7 linked regions of the Homo sapiens genome follow. The protein of the gene in region 3 interacts with the protein of the main gene of each other region in a pairwise test. Each region holds a gene or a part of one and is shown on either strand. Other genes may lie near its edges. The genes, in order: NUP43, UBQLN3, HEXB, XIAP, CAPN15, ZBTB16 and RWDD4.

Region 1 (3,500 bases), on a different chromosome or scaffold from region 3:
TCCACCTTCTGAGTTCAAGTGATTCTCCTGCCTCAGCCTCCCAAGTAGCTGGGATTACAGGCACGTGCCACCACGCCCGGCTAATTTTATATTTTTAGTAGAGACGGGGTTTCTCCATGTTGGTCAGGCTGATCTCACCTGACCTCAGGTGATCAGCCCTCTTCGGCCTCCCAAAGTGCTGGGATTACAGGTGTGAGCCACCGCGCCCAGCCAAAGGTAACCTTTTCTAATAGACATGCCTAGTTAATATAAGTCCCAGTTCATGTTAAGGGTTTTTTTGAGTCATTTAGAAAAAGCTATAGAGATTAATATTTTATTTATTTTATTTTATTTTATTTATTTATTTTTTTTTTTGAGACAGAGTCTCTCTCTGTCACCCAGGCTGGAGTGCAGTGGTGCGATCTCTGCTCACTGCAACCTGCATCTCTCTGGTTCAAGCAATTCTCACACCTCAGCCTTTCAAGTAGCTGGGATTACAGGCGCGTGCCACCACACCTAGCAAATTTTTGTATTTTTAGTAGAGACGGGATTTTGCCATATTGGCCAGGCTGGTCTCGAACCCCTGATCTCAGATGATCTGCCTGCCTTGGCCTCCCAAAGTGCTAGGATTACAGGCATGAGCGACAGCCGTGGGCCAGATATGTATATTTTAGATGTAGGTTAATTCCCATAAGAATACAAAGAGTTGCCTTTGAACATCCAACTGCTTGATCCCTAAAAGTCATTACTGTAGTTTGAGATAAATGTGGGGCATTATTAAACAATATTCCTTTTGTATCTAATTCAGTGTATATAGAACTTTGATGGCAGTAGTTTCTAGATTTCATTATTCTAAAGGAAAAAGGAGAGATTTATTCTTGTAGAAGGGTGTGAGTCAGAATTTAAAGATACTCTTGTTGGGAAGAAGTGCTAATTCCTTAGTACTTTGCTTTAATAGTATCCTCATTTCTGATGCCTAGACTCTGTCAGTCAACCAGCAGTGGACTACAGCTCACTACCACACAGGCCCTGGCAGTCCTTCCTATAGCAGTGCACCATGTACAGGTGTTGTGTGCAACAACCCAGAAATCGTTACAGTTGGAGAGGATGGTCGAATAAATCTCTTCAGAGCTGATCACAAGGAAGCTGTAAGAACCATAGGTAAGAAAAATCCCAGCCTGGCCAACATGGCGAAACCTAGTCTCTTCTAAAAATACAAAAGTTAGGCTGGGTGTGGTGGCTCACCCCGGCAATTGCAGCACTTTGGGAGGCCGAGGCAGGTGGATCACCTGAGGTCGGGAGTCCGAGACCAGCCTGACCAACATGGAGAAACACCGTCTCTACTAAAACTACAGAATTTGCTGGGCATGGTGGCACATGCCTGTAATCCCAGCTACTTGGGAGGCTGAGGCAGGAGAATCGCTTGAACCTGGGAGGCGGAGGTTGCAGTGAGCAGAGATCGCACCATTGCACTCCAGCCAGGGCAACAAAAGTGAAACTCTGTTTAAAAAAAAAAAAAGAAAAGTTAGCCAGGCGTGGTGGCGCATGCCTGTAATCCCAGCTACTCAGGAGGCTGAGGCAGGAGAATCGCTTGAACCTGAGAGGTGGAGGTTGTGGTGAGCTATGATGGCACTCTGCAGTCCCACCTGGGTGACAGAGGGAGACCCTGTTTCAAAAAAAGAAAAATCATTGTACTCCTTTCATCCATCAGAGTAATTGAGCACTTACCATATACTAAGTAAATACTGCCAGGCACGGTGGCTCATGCCTGTTACCCCAGCACTTTGGGAGGGTGATGCAGGCGGATCACAAGGTCAAGCGATCAAGATCATCCTGGCCAACGTGGTGAAAATCCGTCTCTACTGAAAATAACAAAAATAAGCTGGGTGAGGTGGTGTGCATCTGTAGTCCCAGCTACTCGGGAGGCTGAGGCAGGAGAATCACTTAAACCCGGGAGGCAGAGGTTGCAGTGAGCCAAGATTACACCACTGCACGCTAGCCTTGTGACAGAGAGAGACTTCATCTAAAAAAAAAAAGTAAACACAATGTTAAGTGATGGAGGGATGTAAAAATATATGGCCGGGTACAGTGGCTGACGCCTATAATCCCAGCACCTTAGGAGGCAAAGGCGAGCAGATCATTTGAGGCCAAGAGTTTGAGACCAGCCTGACCAATATTGCAAAACCCCATCTCTACTAAAAATACAAAAATTAGCTGGGCATGGTGGCACAGGCCTGTAATCCCAGCTGCTTGGGAGGCTGAGGCATGAGAATCGCTTGAACCTGAGAGACTGAGAGGCTGCAGTGAGCCGAGATCATGCCACCGCACTCCAGCCTGGGTGACAGAGCAAGACTCTGTCTCAAAAAAATATAAAATATATGTACACATGTGCACACACAACGCAAGGCAGGATCCCTTTGTCAAGACAGTATGTTGATGAGACCAGTATGAATGACTGACTAGAGGAAACAGAAACCTTTTTTTTTTTGGTGAGAGGGCATTATCAGATAAAACATCTGGAAGCAGGTAGTAATTAATAGTTTTTCTAGGTTCTAGACCATAAGTAATACTAAAAGATGGCGTGCTAGACAAAGGGAATAGGCCAGAGGCAGGATAAAGACATTCAGAGAATGACAAAAAGTATAGTTTGACCCGACTTTAGATATTTATTTAGGAGAGATGAAAGATGAAGCAAGAGAGAAGTAAGCTGGGGCCAGATTGCAAAGAGTCTGTAATGCAAAATCACAGAAGTTACATCTTTTAGGTGGAAAACTAAGTGTATTGGTTCTGAACTATGCTTCAGCCAGACTTCTCTGAGGAAATTTTTTAACTGTCGACCACTCTAGACCTTTTAAATCAGAATCTCTAGGAATTGAGCCCATGAATCCATTTTGTATGTGTGTGTTTTGTTTGTTTGTTTGTTTAGATGGAGTCACGCTCTGTCACCAGGCTGGAGTGCAATGGCACGACCTCAGCTCACTGCAACCTCCACCTCCTGGGTTCACGCGATTCTCCAGCCTCAGCCTCCCGAGGAGCTGGGACTACAGGCGCACGCCACCACACCCACCTAATTTTTGTATTTTTAGTAGAGACAGGCTTTCAACATGTTGGCCAGGATGGTCTTGATTTCTTGACTTTGTCATTCGCCTGCCTCGGCCTCCCAAAGTGCTGGGATTACAGGCGTGAGCCACTGTACCTGGCCTTTTGTGTTGTTTATTATGATTTTCATTTCTGAGTTAAGTTGCATTACTTTTTTTTTTTTTTTTTTTTTTTTTGAGACAGGGTCTTGCTCTGTCACCCAGGCTGGAGTGCAGTGGCATGATCCCAGCTCATTGCAACCTCTGCCTCCCAGGTTCAAGCGATCCTCCCACCTCAGCCTTCCAGGGATGTGGGACTACAGATGCACACCACCATGCCCAGCTAATTTTTGTAGAAACGAGGTTTCACCATGTTGCCCAGGCTGGTGTCAAACTCCTGGGCTCAAGTGGTCTGCCCACCTCGGCCTCCCGAAGTGCTGAGAT
Region 2 (4,187 bases), on a different chromosome or scaffold from region 3:
TGCTTATTTCAACAAGAAAGACAGTAATAATCAGAAGGGACTTCTACCTGTGTCTACCATGAAATCAACCAACTAGCTTACAACTGTCCCAATACACTCTGCCTCCCATTCATTCTGCTATCATGAATAAACTTCATATTCCTAAATCAAGCTCTCCACATAGGCACTTGCTCCCAATCTCTCTAACTTATCTATTCAAGAACTTAATAGTTTTCCCTTTCTCATGCATCAATTTTTTCTACTCACTGGATTGTTTCTATCAGAATATAAACATCATTACACTATTCTTAAGAAAAAAATCTAAAAAGCCTTTAACCCCACATCCCCACATAGCCGTCATCCCCTTTCTTGCATTTAAAATGCCCTAACTGGATCTACTTTTTCCCAAACCATTTGCTTTTAAACACACTCTGATTAGGCTTCCTGCCTCTACTATCCTTCCAAAGCTAGTCTCATCATGGTCTCCAATTCTTTATTTTTTCAAATCCAGTGGCCAATTCTCAATCCTCATCCTCCTGACCTAGCAGCATCATTTCACATGATTGGTTACTCTCTCCTTTTTGAAACTCTTCTTCCTTTGGCCTTTCTCTTTTCTCTCTCTTTTTTTCTACCTTACTCTTTTATTTTTTCTCCGTTTCCTTTGCCAAATTCTTCTGATCTTCCAGATTTCTAAATGTTATACAGCCACAAAACTCAGATTTTAAAATCTCTATCATTTTGCCTGTATGCACTAACTAGCTAATCTAAACCAGTCCATGATGTTAAGTACCCTTTGAATGCTAATAAACTCTGGACTTATAATATTAAACTACAATACTACATCTCCATTTGTATGTAAAATAGACATCTCAAATGTATGTAAAACTGTTTAACAACCTGCTAATTTAGACAAAGTGCTTATTCCCAATCTTTGTCTTAGTAAATATTCAATCCTTTGAGTTCCTTTGGGGATAACAATTTCTTTTAAAGTAAAAAAAAAGTTATCTCATGCTTGACTCCTCCCTTATACCCCAAATCCTATCCATCAGCGAATCAATACTTTGAAAATACGTAAAGAATTCATGGTTAATGTTGAATAAGACAGAAAACTGGGACATAGGATACCAGGAAGAAGACCCTGGACCAGGAAGTAGCTGAATGTGGGTCTGAATGGAGACAGAGAGGACTGAGAGATGTTTTATAACATTCCAATCCCAGTCTGAGCCTCCACAGAAGTCTCCACAGGAAGGCACTTGAGGTGGAGGAAGTAGAAGTGGTAAAAGATGGGAGAGCAAGAGTTCCCAGGGATCCCGAGCTCCTTAGAGAAGTCTCAAGAATCTTCTCTGTGTGAGGCTGTGACGTCAGCACTGAGGTCACAGAAGGGACCTGATAGTGCGGGTTCTGGCCCAGAAGGCCTCAGGGGTGGCTGTGTAGCAAGATGAGGGAGGTTTGGAGCCCTGCATAAAGAGAAGGACGGGACCACAGCTGACTGGTATGTACACCCCAGCTGGGCCCTTCCTTCTACCTTTGTCCCTGTATTCATCAACTACAGACCTCTTTCCCAGGGCCCTGCATTTCCCTCCCCTGATTCCAACATATCTCAATCCCGCAATCTTCCTAAAGCATCCTGCCCCAGAAACCTCATGGCCCCTTTCATGTAGACCCTGCAGATTTCCCTATCCTGATATTCAAGACCCTTTTCATACTCACCCTTCCTACTTTTGCCATTGCCTGAAAGGATGATCTTGGTCTCCAATCCCCATGCCCCTAGCTGTGTCCCCACAGATCTGGGCCTCCTGCTGCCACCATGGCCAAAGGTGGAGAAGCCCTGCCACAGGGCAGCCCAGCACCAGTCCAGGATCCCCACCTCATCAAGGTGACAGTGAAGACGCCCAAAGACAAGGAGGATTTCTCAGTTACAGACACATGCACTATCCAGCAGCTGAAGGAAGAGATATCTCAGCGCTTTAAGGCCCACCCCGATCAGCTTGTTCTAATCTTTGCTGGCAAAATCCTCAAGGATCCTGACTCACTGGCACAGTGTGGAGTGCGAGATGGCCTCACTGTCCACCTGGTCATCAAGAGGCAGCACCGTGCCATGGGCAATGAGTGCCCAGCTGCCTCTGTCCCTACCCAGGGCCCAAGTCCTGGATCACTCCCTCAGCCAAGCTCCATTTACCCAGCAGATGGGCCCCCTGCCTTTAGCTTAGGTCTCCTCACAGGCCTCAGTAGGCTGGGCTTGGCCTATCGTGGCTTCCCTGACCAGCCAAGCTCCCTGATGCGGCAGCATGTGTCTGTGCCTGAGTTTGTGACTCAGCTCATTGATGACCCCTTCATCCCGGGTCTGCTGTCCAACACAGGCCTAGTACGCCAGCTGGTTCTTGACAACCCCCATATGCAGCAGCTGATCCAGCACAACCCTGAGATTGGGCATATTCTTAACAACCCGGAAATTATGCGGCAGACACTGGAGTTTTTACGTAACCCTGCCATGATGCAGGAGATGATACGTAGCCAGGACCGGGTGCTCAGTAACTTGGAGAGCATTCCTGGTGGCTACAATGTGCTTTGCACTATGTACACAGATATTATGGACCCAATGCTTAACGCAGTCCAGGAGCAGTTTGGCGGCAATCCCTTTGCCACTGCCACTACTGATAATGCCACCACCACCACCAGCCAACCTTCAAGGATGGAGAATTGTGACCCTCTCCCCAACCCCTGGACTTCCACACATGGAGGCTCAGGTAGCAGGCAAGGAAGGCAGGATGGGGATCAGGATGCACCTGACATTAGAAATAGGTTTCCAAACTTTCTGGGTATTATAAGGCTCTATGACTATCTCCAGCAATTACACGAGAACCCCCAGTCCCTAGGAACTTATCTACAGGGGACTGCATCTGCCCTCAGCCAAAGCCAGGAACCACCACCATCAGTAAACAGAGTTCCCCCATCGTCACCCTCATCTCAGGAGCCTGGGTCAGGCCAGCCTCTCCCCGAGGAGTCAGTAGCAATCAAGGGAAGGTCCTCCTGCCCAGCTTTCCTGAGATACCCCACAGAGAACAGTACTGGACAAGGTGGAGACCAAGATGGTGCAGGGAAAAGCTCTACTGGACATAGCACAAACTTGCCTGATCTTGTCTCGGGGCTGGGAGATTCTGCCAACAGGGTTCCATTTGCTCCCTTATCTTTTTCCCCCACGGCAGCCATTCCTGGAATCCCTGAGCCTCCCTGGCTGCCATCCCCGGCTTATCCAAGATCTCTGAGGCCAGATGGCATGAATCCAGCTCCACAGTTACAGGATGAGATACAACCACAGCTGCCACTGCTGATGCACCTTCAGGCAGCCATGGCAAACCCCCGTGCCCTGCAAGCCCTGCGGCAGATTGAGCAGGGTCTACAGGTCCTAGCTACTGAAGCACCTCGCCTCCTACTCTGGTTCATGCCTTGCCTAGCAGGGACGGGTAGTGTGGCAGGAGGTATAGAGTCTAGAGAAGATCCCCTTATGTCTGAGGATCCTCTCCCAAATCCACCTCCTGAGGTGTTCCCAGCACTGGACTCTGCAGAGCTGGGCTTCCTTTCCCCTCCCTTTCTCCATATGCTGCAAGATTTAGTTAGTACAAATCCCCAGCAGCTGCAGCCTGAGGCTCACTTTCAGGTGCAGCTGGAGCAACTGCGGTCCATGGGCTTTCTGAATCGTGAAGCCAATCTTCAGGCCCTCATTGCTACGGGGGGCGACGTGGATGCTGCTGTGGAGAAGCTGAGACAGTCGTAGGAGCCTTATTCATTCAAACCATACGTTTTCCTCTGTGCCTTTTTCCCATATCCTAGTTCCCTAGCTCTCCCATTTTTGAATACAGCTGCATTATAAACCAAATTTACTATGAAGTCCTTTGCTGTGGAGGCAATGTTGTTCCAGAGTCAACGAGGAAGACTAATGGCCAAAACATAGTGGAGGTGCTGTGTGTGAGTCAACCACTTGTACCACTATACCACTGGGGGGCCCCAGTCTAAGCTCTGCTTATGCCTATCTTGAGATGCAATTACACCCAATTTCCAATGTGAACTCTTGCCTGAGTCTCATTCATGTGGGCTATGAGAAAAAGGATGGATATGGGAGAAGAAGTAGTGATAAGGGCTGTCTCTACATGGATGGAAGGACTTGGAGGGAAACTAAAAGGTCTGAAGTTAGAAGACTCACAGGTATG
Region 3 (2,778 bases):
GGAGATTCAAAAAAAGACTACTGTGAAATGAGAACACCTTTAGTGAAAGAGGGCAATCAATGATTAAATAGGAAAGATTTTTCAAATAAAAATTCTCTCTGCAAATAGCTTTAGATGGAGGAGAAAGGTGGTAAGGTAAAGAAAGCCATTTTTAAAGGAAATCAGCTTCTTGAAAAAATTGTTTGCAATGGATAATTAAGATAACTTGTAATTAAGTTTTTAGGCTTCTTTTTACTACCTACAAACTTTAATAGTTTTAAGTCTGCACAACTGATGTTAGGCATGTATACTGCTCTAAATAATAAACTGAGCATATCAAACTTCTAATGAAATTTTAATCACTTTTTGCTTCAGGGAATCAAATCCAAAAATTCAAGATTTCATGAGGCAAAAAGGCTTTGGCACAGATTTTAAGAAACTAGAATCTTTCTACATTCAAAAGTAAGTTGTTTGAAAGCCTATTTCTGTATTAATGCTTTTTGTAAAAGTTTATTTAGTAATGTGCTTTATTTTTTACATTTTCTCTACATCCTTTGCCTAAGTGTAGATGTGAAAAATCACTAAAGGAGGCAATACCCACTGCTTGCTTTAAATCAGTAACATGGTGACTCCAAGTATTTTCCAATAGCTGTTGAAATATAGGAAGGCAGTCATCTGTTCTAAAAACTCAGATTGGGCTGGGCATGGTGGCTCACACCTGTAATCCCGGCACTTTGGGAGGCCGAGGCAGGTGGATCACCGGAGGCCAGGAGTTCGAGACCAGCCTGGCCAACATGGTGAAATCCCATCTCTACTAAAAATGAAAAAATTAGCCAGGCATGGTGGCAGGTGCCTGTAGTCCCAGCTACTCGGGCGGCTGAGGGAGAATCTCCTGGGAGATGGAGGTTACAGTGAGCTAAGATCGCACCACTGCACTCCAGCCTGGGCAACAGAGTGAGACTGTCTCAATCAATCAATCAATCAATCCATCAATAAATATAAAACTCAGCTTGAAGCCCTGGCTACCCTGTGAAGTCTTCACTACCATCCAGCCCCTGGAATTCATTCCATTTTGTCAATTCCAGGAACATATATTTTACTATATACCTGTGCTACCCAATACAGTAGCCATAGCCACAGGTGTCTGTCCATATGTAAATTAATTAAAATTAATGAAAGTTAAAAATTCAGCTACTCAGTTGCATTAGCCACATGTCAAGTGTTCAGTAGCCAGCTGAGGCTAGTGACTGCCATACTGAAAAATGCATATATATATATATATATACACATTTCCATCCCAGGAAGTTCTACTAGACCGTGCTGCTCTAGAGGGATTGGCAAACTTTTTCTGTAAAGGGTCAGAGAGTAAAGATTTTAGGCTTCATGGGCCACATACAATTGCCCATGGACCACATACAATTTTTTTTTAACTTAAAAAAAACCTCAAATTTTAAAACTTAAAAAAAAATGCTTTACAAATATAAAAACCATTCTTAGCCCATGAGACATACAAAAACAGCCTGCAAGCTGTAGTTGCCAACCCTTATGCTGTACCATTTATTTGGCAAGCCCAGATTCCAGCCTTTGCCTGTTCAGCTTTTTGTGTGATGCATTTAAGTGTTATTTATCTGCAGAGCACCTGGCATTATGTAAATATCTGTAAATATTTGTGGATTGTCAGTAACTGTTACATGTAATTTATGTGATATGACAGGCTAGATCGTGGTCCCTACCATTTTAAGACAGCCATAAAATTGTAAGAGATTGCTGTTTGTACAATTTCCTGAGTTGCCTACCAACTCAATTTGAGGCCACTTCTTCCTATCTTAGGGGCATGTTTAACTCATTCATTCAGCAAATGATTATTAAACCCCCATACTATGTTAGGTTCTGTATCAAGTGCTAAAAAGGAGGAACTACTTGTGACACTTCCCAACTTGAGCTGCTTCTGCTATAAAGCTGAACTATACTAAAAGGCACCTCTCAAAATGCAAGAAATCCTTGGTAGAAAATGTACATGTTTTAAATATATTGTTAAGCTTATGATCTAAAATAACTATAATTTTTTTGTAATACTAGGGTTTTGGATATTATTGCAACCATAAACAAGGGATCCATTGTCTGGCAGGAGGTTTTTGATGATAAAGCAAAGGTGAGCATTGTGAAGACTGCATCTGATCAATATAAGAGACTTAATTATTTTTCTTGGGGCAACTGGGAATTTGCAAGTCTAACTACTAGTATTACCTTTCTAGTGTAGTTAGTGACCACTTTGGACCTCATAGTTCCAAGCTAGGTTTGGTAGAAATAAGACTAAAATGCAAGTCTCAGCTTTAGTTAACTGAACCTATGTGGTATCCATATATAAGCAAAAGTTAAATATTCAAACCTAAGGTTGATGAAACTTTTAAGTCCCTAAAATGAGTATCACATGGCACTAACTCTGAAGAAAAGAGGAAAAAGAAAATGCAGATTTTTTTTAAGGATCTTAGAAAATTATGTTCCTAGTAATAATGCCTTAAACTTTCAATTTCATCTACTGTTCTAGGCCTAATAATATGTATTGCAATTTGTAACGTTAATAGCTTGCGCCGGGCACAATAGTTGAAGTATGGAAAGACAGCGCATATCCTGAGGAACTCAGTAGAGTCACAGCATCTGGCTTCCCTGTAATCCTTTCTGCTCCTTGGTACTTAGATTTGATTAGCTATGGACAAGATTGGAGGAAATACTATAAAGTGGAACCTCTTGATTTTGGCGGTAAGTGAAGCAGTTGGTCCAAGTGTTGTGGGTTACTGT
Region 4 (3,500 bases), on a different chromosome or scaffold from region 3:
AGACTGAATCTAATCCTGCACTTTTTTCTCCTGTATTGGTTAATAGTACCACAGTTCACAAGGTTGCCCAGTAATTTATGTTGTTCCTAAGCTCTTTGCTCTCTGTAATCCTTTTACATTTAATTAATCATCAAATTTGATGGATTCCACCTTTTTAATGTTGCTTCAGACTTTCCCACTTATTCTGCTCTAGTTCAGGCCCTTCCTTGTTTTTCAACTGGACAATTGTAGTAGTCTCCTAACTGGTCTTTTGTCTGTATTATAACCTGCCAACAGAGTTTTTCTTTTTGTTTGTTTGTTTTTGTTTGTTTTGTTTTTTTGTTTTTCTGAGACGGAGTCTCGCTCCGTCACCGAGGCTGGAGTGCAGTGGCGCGATCTCGGCTCACCGCAACCTCCACCTCCGGGGGTCACGCCATTCTCCTGCCTCAGCCTCCTGAGTAGCCGGGACTACAGGCGCCCACCACTATGCCCGGGTAATTTTTTTTTTTATTTTTTGGTATTTTTTGCAGAGACGGGGTTTTGAACTCCTAGGCTCAAGCGATCTGCCCGTCTTAGCCTCCCGAAATGCTGGGACTACAGACGTGGGCCACCATGCCCAGCCTTATCTTTTATTTTTATTTTTTAATATAGATAGGGTCACACTTTGTTGACCAGGGTGGTTTCAAACTCCAGGCCTCAAGGAATCCCCCTTGGCCTCCCCAAAGTGCTGGGATTACAGGTGTGAGCCACTGCACCCAGCCTCCTCTCTTTCAAAAAACATTTATTGAGCTATAATATACATACAGTAGCCGGGCGCAGTGGCTCACGCCTGTAATCCCAGCACTTTGGGAAGTTGAGGCAGGTGGATCACGAGGTCAGGAGTTCGAGAGCAGCCTGGCCAATATAGTGAAACCCCATCTCTACTAAATATACAAAAAAATTAGCCAGGCGTGGTGGTGCATGCCTGTAATCCCAGCTACTCGAGAGGCTGAGGCAAGAGAATTGCTTGAACCTGGGAGGTGGAGGTTGCAGTGAGCCGAGACGCGCCATTACACTCCGGCCTGGGTGACAGAGCGAGACTACGTCTCAAAAAAAAAAAAAAAAAAAAAAAAAATATATATATATATATATATATGATTTTATATATATATGATTTTATATATATATGATTGTGTATATATATATGATTTTGTATATATATATGATTTTGTATATATATATGATTTTGTATATATATGATTTTGTATATATATATGATTTTGTATATATATACACACGCACACATACACACATAAAGTGCTTAAAGTACCCTAATCGTAAGTTTTCTACTTGATGAATTTTAACATATATATGTTAAAATATATATTAAATATGTGTTAAATATATATTAAAATGTATATGTTAAAATATATATATTTATCTGTGTGACTATCCCCCAGATTAAGATATAGAACATTCCCACAACCCTAGAAAGTTCTTTCATGCTCCTTCCCCATCAGTACCCACCCCCAAGTTATATTCTGGCTTCTATTACCATAGATTAATTTTGTTTATTACCATAGATTAGTTTTGAAGTTCTTATAAATGGACTCATGCAGTAGGTACTCTTTTGTGTCATAATGATGAATTATGATTATGTTTTGCTCATTATATCTATGAGATCCATCCATATTGTCTGTGGCAATAGTTTTTTTTTTTTTTCTTGCTGTGTAGCGTATGAATATACCACAATTTATGTATCTGTTCACCTGATGATGGACATTTGAGTTGTTTCCAGTTTGGGGCTATTATAAATAACACTACTATGAATACTCTTGTGCATATCTTTGGCAGAGATATACACTCATTTTTAATACCCAAGAGTGGAATTGATGAGTCAGAGGGTATAAGTGTCCTCTCCTAGCACTTCCCTACACATGCTGTGTTCCTACTTTAAGTATCATAAAAACAAGTTTCCATTGACTTTCTTGCTTTATTCAGTCCTACCCGCTCTGCTACAGAAACGAAGTTTGAGAGCTAGGAAATTGACACATTCAAGGTTATAGACTGGGACTTCCCTGATTTCCCATCATTTTCCCCAAATAATTGCTAGTGACTCAGTAACAACATCCACTCTTTAAGTAACTTAGGTTAATTGTTAATGAGTACAGCTAGATTCAAAACAGTTCAGATTTTTGAAGCACTTAACCTTTTTCTTGCCTATTTTACCTTGCATCGTTTCAAACACTACAAAATACATACTCATTGCATTTACAATTAATTGTAAGATTCTGAAAGTGATTTTTCAGTGCCTGAATACTTCAAAAAATCTTCCCAAAGCAGCTTTGCTTTGCTGGTTTGTTTTTATTCTTTCGCTTGCTCCTTAATTTTTTCATTTTAACTATATTTTGCTATTGAGTTGTGATAATGAAAATAATTGTTTAAATTCTATGTTCTTTTTCCTCACCAATTTTTATTTCAGATGATACCATCTTCCAAAATCCTATGGTACAAGAAGCTATACGAATGGGGTTCAGTTTCAAGGACATTAAGAAAATAATGGAGGAAAAAATTCAGATATCTGGGAGCAACTATAAATCACTTGAGGTTCTGGTTGCAGATCTAGTGAATGCTCAGAAAGACAGTATGCAAGATGAGTCAAGTCAGACTTCATTACAGAAAGGTATGCATTGCTGTTTTTAAAAAGCAAGAAAGGGCCAGATGTGGTGGCTCATACCTGTAATCCCAGCACTTTGGGAGGCTGGGACAGGTGGATATGGACATTTTTTAAACGTAACCTTAATGCTGTGTGTTAGTCTGCTCAAGCTGCTATAATAAAATTCCATAGACTAGGTGTCTTAAACAACAGACTTATTTCTGACAGTTTTGGAGGCTCCAAAATCAAGGTGCTGGCTGATTTGGTTATTGATGAGGGCCCTCTTCCTACCTTGCAGATGGCTGCCTTCTCACTGTGTCCTCACATGGCATGGGTTGGGATTGGATGGGACAAGATGGAGCAAGTACTCTGGTCTCTTTTCCTCTACTTTTAGGAACACTAATCCCATCATGGGGGGGTCTCATCTTCATGACCTCATCTAAACCTAATTACTTCCCAAAGGCCTCATTTCCAAATATCATTACATTAATCATGGAAAAAAGATTAAAAATATGAGTTCTACCAGCCTGGACAACATAATGAAACTGTCTCTACAAAAAATACAAAAATTAGCCGGGCATGGTGGTGTGTGCCTGTAGTCCCAGCTCCTTGGGAGGCTGAGCGGGGAAGATCACCTGAGCCAGGGAGGTCAAGGCTGCAGTGAGCCATGATCATGCCACTACACTTCGGCCTGGGCAACTGAGCAAGATCTTGTCTCAAAATATATGTATCTCTCCTTTAAGGATGATGGACACTGTAGTGCTTGCCAACAACATCGAAGGTTAAAGAAGAAGTTTCAAACTGAGTACACTTTTGGGTACTTTACCTGTAATAGTTCTCTAAGCTCTTGACCATCCTCCCTCCAAAAAGATGAGAATTCTCCTAC
Region 5 (3,500 bases), on a different chromosome or scaffold from region 3:
TGCATGCTCTCCCTGCGCCTCAGGGGCGCGGCCCCCCGCCGCTGGGCCACCAGGAGCTGAGGCGTGTGGCAGGCGGCGCAGTGCTTGGCCCGCAGTGCGTTGAGCAGGGTACAGGCAGGGCAGGCCCACTGGCCCGGGCGCTCGGGCAGGACGCGGGCGGCCTTCTGGGCCGAGGACACCCGTCCGCAGCTTCTGCCGCAGGGGCTGGGCTTGTCGGCCCCACAGTCGGGGCAGTGGGTGGGGGGCTCGCCATGCTCCTGGAAGCCGTGCAGTTTGGAGCAGCCGCAGGCCGAGCACCTGGGGGCCACTGTGGGGTTTCTGAGCGTGCACTTGGCACATGACCAGGTGGTGAAGTCGGGGCTGGAGGGGCTGGCGGGCGTGTAACGCACGGTGTCTCCGGCCAGGTCAATGATGTCACTGCCCGAGGTGGAGCTGCCGGCCTCTACGCGGCTGGTGCCACCCTCCGTGGCCTCTTCCTCCAGCACACTCAGCCGCTTGCCAGACAGCAACTCTGCTAGGCGGGAGGCCCCAGCCCAGCCCGAGCCCTGGGGGGCTCCCCTGCAGCCGGCAGAGGGTGACGGCTGGGCAGCCTCAGGCACCGGTGGCTGCAGCTGGGGGGGAACCTCGCGTCGGCTGCGCGGCACGGGGTTGTTCTGCAGGGTGGACGAGAAGGGGCTGAAGGGCGGGACCCTGGGCGGCTCTGGTTCGGCAGCTGGGCCCTGGCTGGTGGCTGGGGGGTTGGCCTCGGCACCTTCCCCGGGGAGGCCAGGTGGAGGCGCGGCAGGCACGACGTGGAAGCCGGCCGGGGCCACCACTTCCGGGACCACCAGGGCCTCAGGAGGGATCCGTGGCAGCGAGAGCCTGCGTGGGCCCCCGCAGACGGAGCAGGAGCTGGCCACGGGCGTGTTGTGCAGCGTGCAACGCGGACACGCCCAGCCCCCTCTGGGCTCCGCCGCTCCCTCCTCCTCCTCCTGCTCCTCCTTCTCCTCCTCGTCCTTGTCCTCGCACTGCCCCCTGGCGGGCTCCGTGGCCACCAGCCCCGCAGTCCTCACTGGACCTGCTTCCTCCTGGCAGCTGCCCTTGGGCTCCCCCAGGATGGCGGGTGGCTTGGGGAGGACCCCGTTGAGGACTGGCAGGAAGGCAGCCCCAGGCGCAGGCTCCGGGGTGAAGCCGCACACCTCGCAGGCCTCCTTGCCCAGGAAGTTGCGGAAGGTGCAGCGGGCGCAGGGCCATTTCTGCTCCTCCACGCTGAGCCGCAGGATGTGGTTGAGGTCGGGCTTGTGCCGGGGAGCCTCGCAGATGGAGCACTGGCGCTGGCCGGCCGGGTTCAGGAAGGTGCAGCGCACACAGGACCACTCTCCGACCGTGGCCATAGACCCGGGCGAGTGGGTGTGGCTGCAAGGGAAGGTGCTCATCAGGGCCACCCTGTGAGGTCCTGAGTGGCTGGACCCCACCCTCCTCTCGGCCTGGGGAAGGCACCCGTCTGTGGCTGCAGAGCTACGGGGCCGAGGGCCTAGGGCTGAGCATTTGAGGCAGGCGGCGGTGGGGGCTGCCTCCACCCAGAATGGATCCATGGCTCAGGGCCCCTCTTGCCCGTTGGAGGCTCAGCAGACCCCTTGAGCCACACAGGATCCTACAGAGAGGGCTGAGCACCCCACAGCCGGGCTGCTGTTCCAGGGCACTGCTTTCTCTGTCACCAGGCCTGTGGACGGCAGATAGCAGGGGGTCCCGGCCAAACTCAGGACCAGGTCGTCCTGGGCGTGGAAGAACAGGTGCTCAGACCTACGGAAGGGCAGGTGCATGGGCCGGGGCCTGGGGAAGGCACAGGCTGATCTGAGCAAGGGGCCTCCCCACACCACAGCACAGCCTCCGAGACAGACTGGCTGCTCTGCCTGGCAGAAAAATCAATTGTTCTTGTAAATATGGCCTGAATCTTGTGCTCCATCTAAACCCTTTTGGTTCAGGAAGAAAGAAAACCTGCCTCTTCATAAGAAGCACAAAAACAAAAAGTCTCCGCGAGCAACACGGGTGTTCTGTGGAGCCGAGCGAACTCCGTGATGCTGCCTTCCCTGCGCTCAGCCCCGCGTGGCGAGGGCTCTGAGCTGCCCCTGGCAGAGTGGACGGGGGTGGACTGGGCCCGGCGAGGCTCAGGGCGTCCAGCTGGAGCAGAGAGACCCAAGGCCGGGAATCTGCTCTAACAGCGGGCTTCTGTGAAAGCCCAAGCAATCTGCCCGTAGACAGCCAGGCCTCTCCCCGCCATCACCACTCGGAGAAGGGCATGGATGCAGCTGTGGCCGGCGGGCTCCCGGCCGCACCTGCACGTTCCTCGGCCTGGCTGCCGAGGCGGCACAGCCCAGGCGTCCGGCCTGGGCCCCTGTGGGTGGCACAGTGGCCATGATCTTTGCAGCCCCCACTCCGGGAGGTGCCTTCACAGACTCTGCACCCCGCTGACCGCAGGTGCAGGCAGAGGTGGGCTGGGCCTCCTGGGACACACCCTCCCTTTGGCCCTGTAGTTGTCACCGACTAGCAAGGACAGCCTCACCAGCTCCAGAGAGGAGAATGAGAACCCGGGTCCCCAGGACCAAACAATCGCCAGCGGGGTGTGTCTGCTGGGAGACACCTTTCGGAGTCATCCTGGCAAAACCCAGGTGGGTCAGGAAGACGTCTGCACTTCAGGAGGGTTTCAATGAAGTCAGAACAAGGCCTAAAGTTCAAACGTGGCCCCGGGACACGGGTGAGGAGGGCGAAGGCAGGCCACGGCCCTTCTGTGGCTGGAGACGCTGAGGGGAGTGTCACTGACCCCGCAGTCTGCGCTGTGCCGGCCTCTCTCGGTGGGCCGAGGTGGAAGGGGGCCAGGGGTCAGGGGTCAGCGGTGGGAGACCTCGGCAGGGCCCCCACCCTCCCTGCCCTTCTGCCCTGGTTCTGGTCTCCACAACCCCCCAGCCACTCTAGGGCCACCCTCACCTCTGCAGGGCCTGGGCAGGTTCATGGGCTCAGAGACCCGAAACCCTTACAAAGATGTTGTTTTGAACTTTAGAGATGGGGTCTGATTGCCCAGGATGGTGCAGTGGCTCGCGCACGGCTCACTGCAGCCTTGACCTCCTGAGGCCAGACCGCCAAAGCCTGGAAGTAAAAGCTCGCGTCAGGAGCCCAAAGACCCAAAGCCAGGCCTGAGCGAAGCCCTTTTGGAATTCTCAACCCAGAACGCTCCTGAAGTCGCAGCCACACGTGCTCAGCAAGGAGCCCTCACTACTGCAGGATGGTTACCTTCGAAGGGAGCGGGCTCAGGGCAGACGACGTGAGGGGAGACGACGACGTGGGGGGAGACGACGACGTGAGGGGAGGCGACGTGGGGGAGGCGACGTGGGGGAGGCGACGTGGGGGAGGCGACGTGGGGGAGGCGACGTGGGGGAGACGACGACGTGGGGGAGACGACGTGGGGGAGGCGACGTGGGGGAGGCGACGACGTGGGGGAGGCGACGTGGGGGAGGCGACGTGGG
Region 6 (3,500 bases), on a different chromosome or scaffold from region 3:
CTTTAGTGAGTGGAGAAGTAGTTAAAAAAAAAAAACAAAACAGGATCTGTAGCTAGTCTTGGGAAAGCATTAAAATCTAGGGTGTGTGAGTGTGAACCCCAGCCCTGCCACTTACGAACTCTATGGCAGGAGTCCCCAACCCCCGGGCCATGGTCTGTGAGGAGCTGGGCTGCACAGCAGGAGGCGAGCGAGTGAAACTGAGCTCCGCCTCCTGTCATATTAGTGGCGACATTAGATTCTCACAGGAGCATGAACCCTATTGGGAACTGTGCATTCAAGGGATCCAGGCTGCACACTCCTTATGAGAGTCTAATGATAAATGTAATGTGCTTGAATCATCCCAAAGCCATCCCCCAACCATACGTGGAAAAATTGCCTTCCATGAAACCAGTCCCTTGTGCCAAAAATGTTGGGGACCACTGCTCTGTGGGATTTTGGCCAAAGTACTTAATCTCTCTGTGCCTCAGTCTCCTTGTCTAAGGGATGAGGATAACAGAGGCTAGCTTTTTGAGTTTTGGATTTATATTAGTTATGTTAGAACAATGGCTGGCCCATAGTATCTTTGTTATTGTTTTTTCTCGCAGGGTCTACCTTGCCTCCCCCACTTTTTGCCCTGTACTCTGTGAAGTCCATCTGGTATATGCTGTCTTAGTACCTTGCCGCCTTTTACATACCACCCGACACAGTTGCCCACTACCCTTGCTGCTGCGATGTATTTGATCAATGTCTATCCTTTAGCTTTAGCTTCCAGAGCTCGGGAACGACGTCGATTTTGCCCATCACTGGGGCCACATACTGGGTGCTCAGTGTTGCATAGCCTGGGCCCACTCTGGATTTGCCCCTGAGCATGGGGATTTGGAGGTGTGAGTCCCGACACTGGCTCTCACTCCAGATGGGTAAAGAATGCACCTTGTATTCCCACCTTTCTGAGGCACCCCCTCTCCTGTCTCCCACAGGCACTGACATGGCCGTCTTCTGTCTGCTGTGTGGGAAGCGCTTCCAGGCGCAGAGCGCACTGCAGCAGCACATGGAGGTCCACGCGGGCGTGCGCAGCTACATCTGCAGTGAGTGCAACCGCACCTTCCCCAGCCACACGGCTCTCAAACGCCACCTGCGCTCACATACAGGTAGGTCAGTCCAGCTGATGGGTGGATCTGGGTCTCTGGGAGCCAGCGTCTATATTTACCTCCAAGGACGTAAAGTGGAGGTGGTGGGCTGAGTCAGCCTTCAGTCCTTCTGCTCAAGGCTTGGACGTGCAGAGGCTGCCCGTCGTGCAGGTAAATGTGGACAGTTCTCCCAGTCCCCTCCTGTGGACCGTCGGTTCAAAGTCTTTCCGTGTTCAACACAGGATGCTCATTAAAAAGGCAGGCTCTTGGGTCCCACTCTCAGAACCTTTTATTCCATGGGTCCAGGGTGGGGTCCCAGATTCAGCATTATTAATATGTATTCCCAAGGGATTCTCATGTAGGTAGACCCAAAATGAATTTTGAGAAAAACTGACCTGCTGGGTCTCTTAACATTGTCTGCCCTGCCTCCCACCACTCTTGATGCCCCGCCGCTCTATCCATACACATTTCTGAAGTCAGCTTCGGGCTTCTGAGGGCAAGTTGAAGCAGTGATCCTACTTTCCCCACAGTAACAAAGGCCTGTACTTGGACCTTAACCCTGTTTAGGGAAGACAAGGAGGGCATTTAAACGATGAGCAATGAAATATCACTGCTCAGCCAGTTCCAGGTGATGGGACAAGGGAGGGGGTACAAGGTAAGGAGGCTGGGCCAGGTGCTGAGGGGCTGGCCATTCCCTGCCACCAGCCTCTAGGGCTTGAGGGATGGGGACACTTGGTCCCTGATGGCCAAGAGGCATTTGCTTTCCTGCAGCAGCTCCCAGTTTTCCCTAACAGGGGAGTGGATGGCTTAAATTCCTTATTTTCTCTATGACAAAACTGGGGCTCTGCTGAAACTACCTGGTTAAAGGAATGCCCATTTCTGAGTCTGCCTTTGTGTGCTGTGTTTGTAGGGAGGGTTGGGGTCAGGTCTCTATCTGGGTATATAACAGAGCGTATACTTGTAAAAACCTCTGCATGCCACGTAAAGGAACAGTAGGCCCTCTCCTCATTTTGAGAGTCTTGTCACAGCTCAGAGATTGAGTATGCAGACCAGGTCTTGCATGGGTGGCAGGCTCTGCTAAATAAGGGAAGAGCTTTACTTCTCATGGACTGAGCTGGCCTGGCCAGCCAGCAGCAGGTATCCTCATTAAGGAGCCTTCCTGGCTGTCACTTCTGGATGCCATTTTGTTCAGGGGAGCACATTGTCTTAGCATCACCAGATTTGCACAGAACTACTTAAAATTTCTGGGACAGGACGGAGGTAGGGCCCAGAGGGGTGGGCTCAATAAAAAGGGCCCAGGAGAGTGGGATGTTGACAAGGACTTTCTCTACAGCGATTGCGTAAGCATTTCCCCTGCAGCTATATGCACCTTCCTATGAACGCCTCCCTCAACAGTTCCCCAGGTTCATTCGGTCTTATGAAAGATGGCTAGATACCTTTCAGCCACTTCTGAGCATGCCACTGGGTCCAATCAGTTGGCTTCATGTGACTTGAATGATCTCAGTCCTGCTAAATCCACCCAGGATGTGCCCTGCTCTGACCATGCCACCTTCTCAGAGCTCAGATATGAAAATGTCACATGCTCTTGTGTCAGTCATGGCTCAGATCCACGGGGAGGGGCTGTTTCCAGAGTTAGGGAGAAGCCCTTGCTTATTCTAGGAAACACGGAGCATGTGTGCTGCCTATGCACACACAGAGAAACACCCATCAATTTTCACACCAGCGAGGCACTGCGCACACAAGCCATATACAGGCTGTGCACACCCCACACACAATGCCTCATTAATATTCCGTTGTTCTTGGCCCATTTGCTGCTGGGGCCGGGTGTTTAGCATCAGCAGCTGTGTTTGGTAGGTTAGTCCAGCCGTGCTCTTGGCATTGATGGATCCCTGATTCACACGGCTCATCATATAATAAACTCTCAGCTGTGCTGAAGGGAGGGGCTGGAAGGGAGGGGCCTGAGGAGCCAGCAGGATGGGGCTGGGGTGGGGAGGACGACAGACACTGGGCTTGGCCAGTGCCAGAGAAAGCACCAAGTAAGGACAGATTGGGGGGGGCGGGGTCACAGGTGCACTGGGCAGGCTGGAGGGGGCTCTAATTAGTCTCGTTTGTCCTGCACTTAATGTCAAGCTCATTAAAGAGGCTACAGAGTTAATCAACATACCACAAATTGGATTTTGAGTTCTGCAGCCAGTTTTGTGTACATTATGGCCACACTGACACAATCAGCTCTCAGGGTGAAGATTTCACGCCAGGTGCACACCGTGCTTCCAAATCGGGATGGGGATACGTGTGTGTTGGTGACTTTTTCTTTCTTTTTTTTTTGTTGTTGTTTGTTTTTCCTTCTAAGTTCTTTTTATTCTTTTCCCTGGGCAGACTCAAGAATTTCCTATT
Region 7 (3,500 bases), on a different chromosome or scaffold from region 3:
CATTGTACAGTGCTTAGTAGTCCCTGACACAGAGTTTGAAAGTAAGTATCATTGGTAGTAATATTGTCATGTGTTGCTGCATGCACCTATGTGGTAAGTATCTAAGGTTATATAAGTTAGTCAAGCTTTTACATAGTTGAGTGGGCTTGAATGAGAAAGTAAAGACCCTCTATTTCTAATTCATTTATACCACTAAACAAAACTCATTCAGTTCTTTATTTCAGATGGAACTAGAAGCATTACGCTCTATTTATGAAGGAGATGAAAGTTTCCGGGAATTAAGTCCAGTTTCTTTTCAATATAGGGTAAGACATGGCATGAATAAGAGCACTTAGAACTTTTCTAGAAAAGACTGAAAGTGGCTAAAAATGCTTATTTTGTTTTTTAAACTTGTTTAAATTTATTATGTCTGTATTTTCTGTAGCATTTAAATGGAAACATCACCCTAACATCAGTCATTTTTAACGTTTGAAAACTTAATTCAGAAGCTTAAAAAACCAAGATAAACTTGTTTTTATTGTACCAGAATCATAAGATACTAGAAATGGAAAAAACCTTAAAAATTATTTAATCTTATCTTTAACATAAAATAGTAACAGTAGGGCTGGGCGCGGTGGCTCTCACCTGTAATCCCAGCACTTTGGGAGGCCAAGGTGGGCGGATCACGAGGTCAGGAGATCGAGACCATCCTGGCCAACATGGTGAAACCCCACTGTCTCTACTAAAAATACAAAAAATTAGCCGGGCATGGTGGCGGGCGCCTGTAGTCCCAGCTACTCGGGAGGCTGAGGCAGGAGAATGGCGTGAACCCGGGAGGCAGAGCTTGCAGTGAGCCGAGATCAAGCCACTGCGACAGAGCGAGACTCTGTCTCAAAAAAAAAATAGTAACAGTATTTTATTTTGTAAATAAGTCATATAAACCTTTTATTCAAATGATTATAAGTAGGCGGGGCACAGTGGCTCACACCTTTAATCCCAGAACTTTGAGAGGCCGAGGCAGGCGGATCACCTCAAGTCTGGAGTTCTAGACCAGCCTGGCCAACAAGGTGAAACCCTGTCTCTACTAAAAATACAAAAATTAGCCACGCATGATGGTGCATGCCTGTAGTCCCAGCTACTTGGGAGGCTGAGGCAGGAGAATCACTTGAACCCAGGAGGCGGAGGTTCCAGTGAGCAGAGATTGTGCCACTGCACTCCAGTCTGGGCGACAGAGCGGGACTCAAAAAAAAAAACAAAAAAAACACACAAATAATTATAAGTAGCGGAATGGGGAAGTTTTTTTTGTAAAAGATTTACAGTTATTATTAACATTGTCACAGTTTAAACTATTAGAAATGATTCTTATGCATGATCGATGGATGACCATCACAGAAAATAAGTTTCTGTTCTCAATTCCCTTTCAAGCTTAACAGTCCTTACACCATCTCCAAGTATGTAATAACCATGGACCTCAAATGTCCAAAGTTAACAGTGGAGCTAAGTCCTAGGCCCTTCGGTTTGAATCCAGTTGCTACTCTCTCCTTAGCAAATGGGAGGTCGAGAATTTCCCTATACTCTCCTAAATATCTCATTCACAATGGCAGTGATTTAGAGCATGTTGTGCAGAATGCCCTAGGACATTTATATGTACTATAAGATGGACACTGACGTGACCCATAGGATGGATTTAAGAAGAATGATACATGAGATTAGGAGACAGTGTGTTGATAGTCAAAGGGCCAGGGGTAAAGTTCTTCCTGTGGCCTGAGTCACACCCCTCAGTTCTTGCACGGAATAGTCTGGTAGCCTCCTAGTTGACTTCCCCGGTTTAATACTTTCTTTAGCTTCCCCCTTATACTCCACCATGAGTCCTCCAACAGTACTAGTTGGCACTCTGAAGCATTTAAGTTGTCATCCCATTCTCTTCTTTAAAAATGTTTTTCTCTGGGTTCCTCTTGCCTATAAAATGAGGACGAAATTTTTTCACTTGACACTCCAAATCCTTCTGTTTGTTTCTGTCTCCAAACTTTCCCCTCCACTCACATGCCTTAGACATAATGGGTTGTGACATTTCCCCCCGTGTATTTTTTTCTAGTACTATGCTTTTGCACACATTGTTTGATCTTTCTCTCACCTCAGGTCCATTATTCCCCTGCCTCTCCTTTAAGGCCTAACTCAGGCCTTCTCTGTGATACATTAATATTTGGGCCATGTCTCCTGTCTCTGCTCTGACTTTGAATCAGAATTAGCCGTTCCCCATTTCTTCATACTTTGTTTTGTTACTTTTGAACTATTATTCATATTGCAGTTTTGTAAGTTATATAAATATCTGTCTGAAGACAGGAATAGCCTTGTCTCTATCTTTGTATCTTCGGTACCCAGCACAGTGTGAGGCATGTGATAATTTATTCCTAAATGCGCCATGAGTAAGGACGTAGTGATTGCATCAAGCAGGTAACTTTTATCACTTTTTATCATCTATATTTAAACATAAACCAATGACATCTATTATGCAGATAATCCTTATCCAGGTCTATCAGTAGATCCCTACATTTATTTTAATAACAATACAGAGGAGATTAGCATAGCCCTGTGTAAGGATGAGATGTTGATTCATGTATCATTCCACCGTTTTACTAGAAGATCACCATTTTGCAACCACCAGTATGATAATTGATTCAGTTACAGTTAAGGACTGTTAATGAAGGCTAAAACCTTTGGGTGAAAGGTTGTTGAGAAACAAGGTATTCATACAGTTTTGTAGTGTTGCCCCACAGACGATGATGATTTTTTTTTTTTTAATAGAGACAGGGTCTTGCTGTGTTGCCCAGGCTGGTCTCTAACTCCTGGCCTCAAGTCATCCTCCCACCTCACCTTCTCAAAGAGCTGGGATTACAGACATGAGCCACCTCACCCAGCGAGATTATTCCTTAATTACAAAATGAAAAGGTTTGTGTTGAAGAGATCTGGAGAAGATCACCTAAACCATGTGATCAATCTTAGTGTCACCAGTGATGATTCTGGAAGATCTTCTGTGCCTCCTTATATGATGCTATGGGAAGATGCCACATCACCTCTGTAGTTTTCTTACCAAAAATGTTTAATTTGAATCAGTTCAGATCTGGGGACATTATACAAGAAAACTAGCCTGTATTCTTTTTGGCTTAAAAGGCAGGGGAAGCCAGTCACAGTGGCTCATGCCTATCTATAATCCCAGCACTTTGGGAGGCTGAGGCAGGAAGATCACTTGAGCTCAGGAGTTCGAGACCAGCCTGGGCAACATAGGAAGACCTTGTCTCTACAGAAAGTTTTTTAAAGTCTGGCATGGGGCACACGCCTGTAGCTCCAGCTACTTGAGTGGCTGAGGTGGGAGGATTTCTTTCTTTTTTTTTTTTTTTGAGATGGAGTCTTGCTCTGTTGCCAGGCTGTAGTGCAGTGGCACTATCTCGGCTCACTGCAACCTCTGCCTACCAGATTCAAGCGATTCTCCTGCCTCAGCCTCCTGAGCAGCTGGGACTACA

What was found.
Region 1: the proteins of HEXB (region 3) and NUP43 interact in binary tests that used the Homo sapiens proteins (3 or more experiments, as listed by UniProt).
Region 2: the proteins of HEXB (region 3) and UBQLN3 interact in binary tests that used the Homo sapiens proteins (3 or more experiments, as listed by UniProt).
Region 4: the proteins of HEXB (region 3) and XIAP interact in binary tests that used the Homo sapiens proteins (3 or more experiments, as listed by UniProt).
Region 5: the proteins of HEXB (region 3) and CAPN15 interact in binary tests that used the Homo sapiens proteins (3 or more experiments, as listed by UniProt).
Region 6: the proteins of HEXB (region 3) and ZBTB16 interact in binary tests that used the Homo sapiens proteins (3 or more experiments, as listed by UniProt).
Region 7: the proteins of HEXB (region 3) and RWDD4 interact in binary tests that used the Homo sapiens proteins (3 or more experiments, as listed by UniProt).

Annotation. Positions count from the first base shown.
Region 1 is NC_000006.12:149,740,030-149,743,529, reverse strand, and holds part of NUP43 (nucleoporin Nup43), read left to right. Parts: intron 1-959; coding exon 960-1,140; intron 1,141-3,500. UniProt on the Homo sapiens protein: Component of the Nup107-160 subcomplex of the nuclear pore complex (NPC). The Nup107-160 subcomplex is required for the assembly of a functional NPC.
Region 2 is NC_000011.10:5,507,158-5,511,344, reverse strand, and holds UBQLN3 (ubiquilin-3), read left to right. Parts: upstream 1-1,387; 5' UTR 1,388-1,471; intron 1,472-1,717; exon of another isoform or gene 1,718-1,750; 5' UTR 1,751-1,786; coding exon 1,787-3,754; 3' UTR 3,755-4,045; downstream 4,046-4,187.
Region 3 is NC_000005.10:74,716,233-74,719,010, forward strand, and holds part of HEXB (beta-hexosaminidase subunit beta isoform 1 preproprotein), read left to right. Parts: intron 1-354; coding exon 355-441; intron 442-2,058; coding exon 2,059-2,131; intron 2,132-2,564; coding exon 2,565-2,739; intron 2,740-2,778. UniProt on the Homo sapiens protein: Hydrolyzes the non-reducing end N-acetyl-D-hexosamine and/or sulfated N-acetyl-D-hexosamine of glycoconjugates, such as the oligosaccharide moieties from proteins and neutral glycolipids, or from certain mucopolysaccharides.
Region 4 is NC_000023.11:123,898,053-123,901,552, forward strand, and holds part of XIAP (E3 ubiquitin-protein ligase XIAP), read left to right. Parts: intron 1-2,440; coding exon 2,441-2,641; intron 2,642-3,500.
Region 5 is NC_000016.10:544,712-548,211, reverse strand, and holds part of CAPN15 (calpain-15), read right to left. Parts: exon of another isoform or gene 1,575-3,500; coding exon of another isoform or gene 1,374-1,574; coding exon 1-1,373.
Region 6 is NC_000011.10:114,241,211-114,244,710, forward strand, and holds part of ZBTB16 (zinc finger and BTB domain-containing protein 16), read left to right. Parts: intron 1-956; coding exon 957-1,127; intron 1,128-3,500. UniProt on the Homo sapiens protein: Acts as a transcriptional repressor. Transcriptional repression may be mediated through recruitment of histone deacetylases to target promoters. May play a role in myeloid maturation and in the development and/or maintenance of other differentiated tissues.
Region 7 is NC_000004.12:183,652,686-183,656,185, reverse strand, and holds part of RWDD4 (RWD domain-containing protein 4), read left to right. Parts: intron 1-211; exon of another isoform or gene 212-224; coding exon 225-305; intron 306-3,500.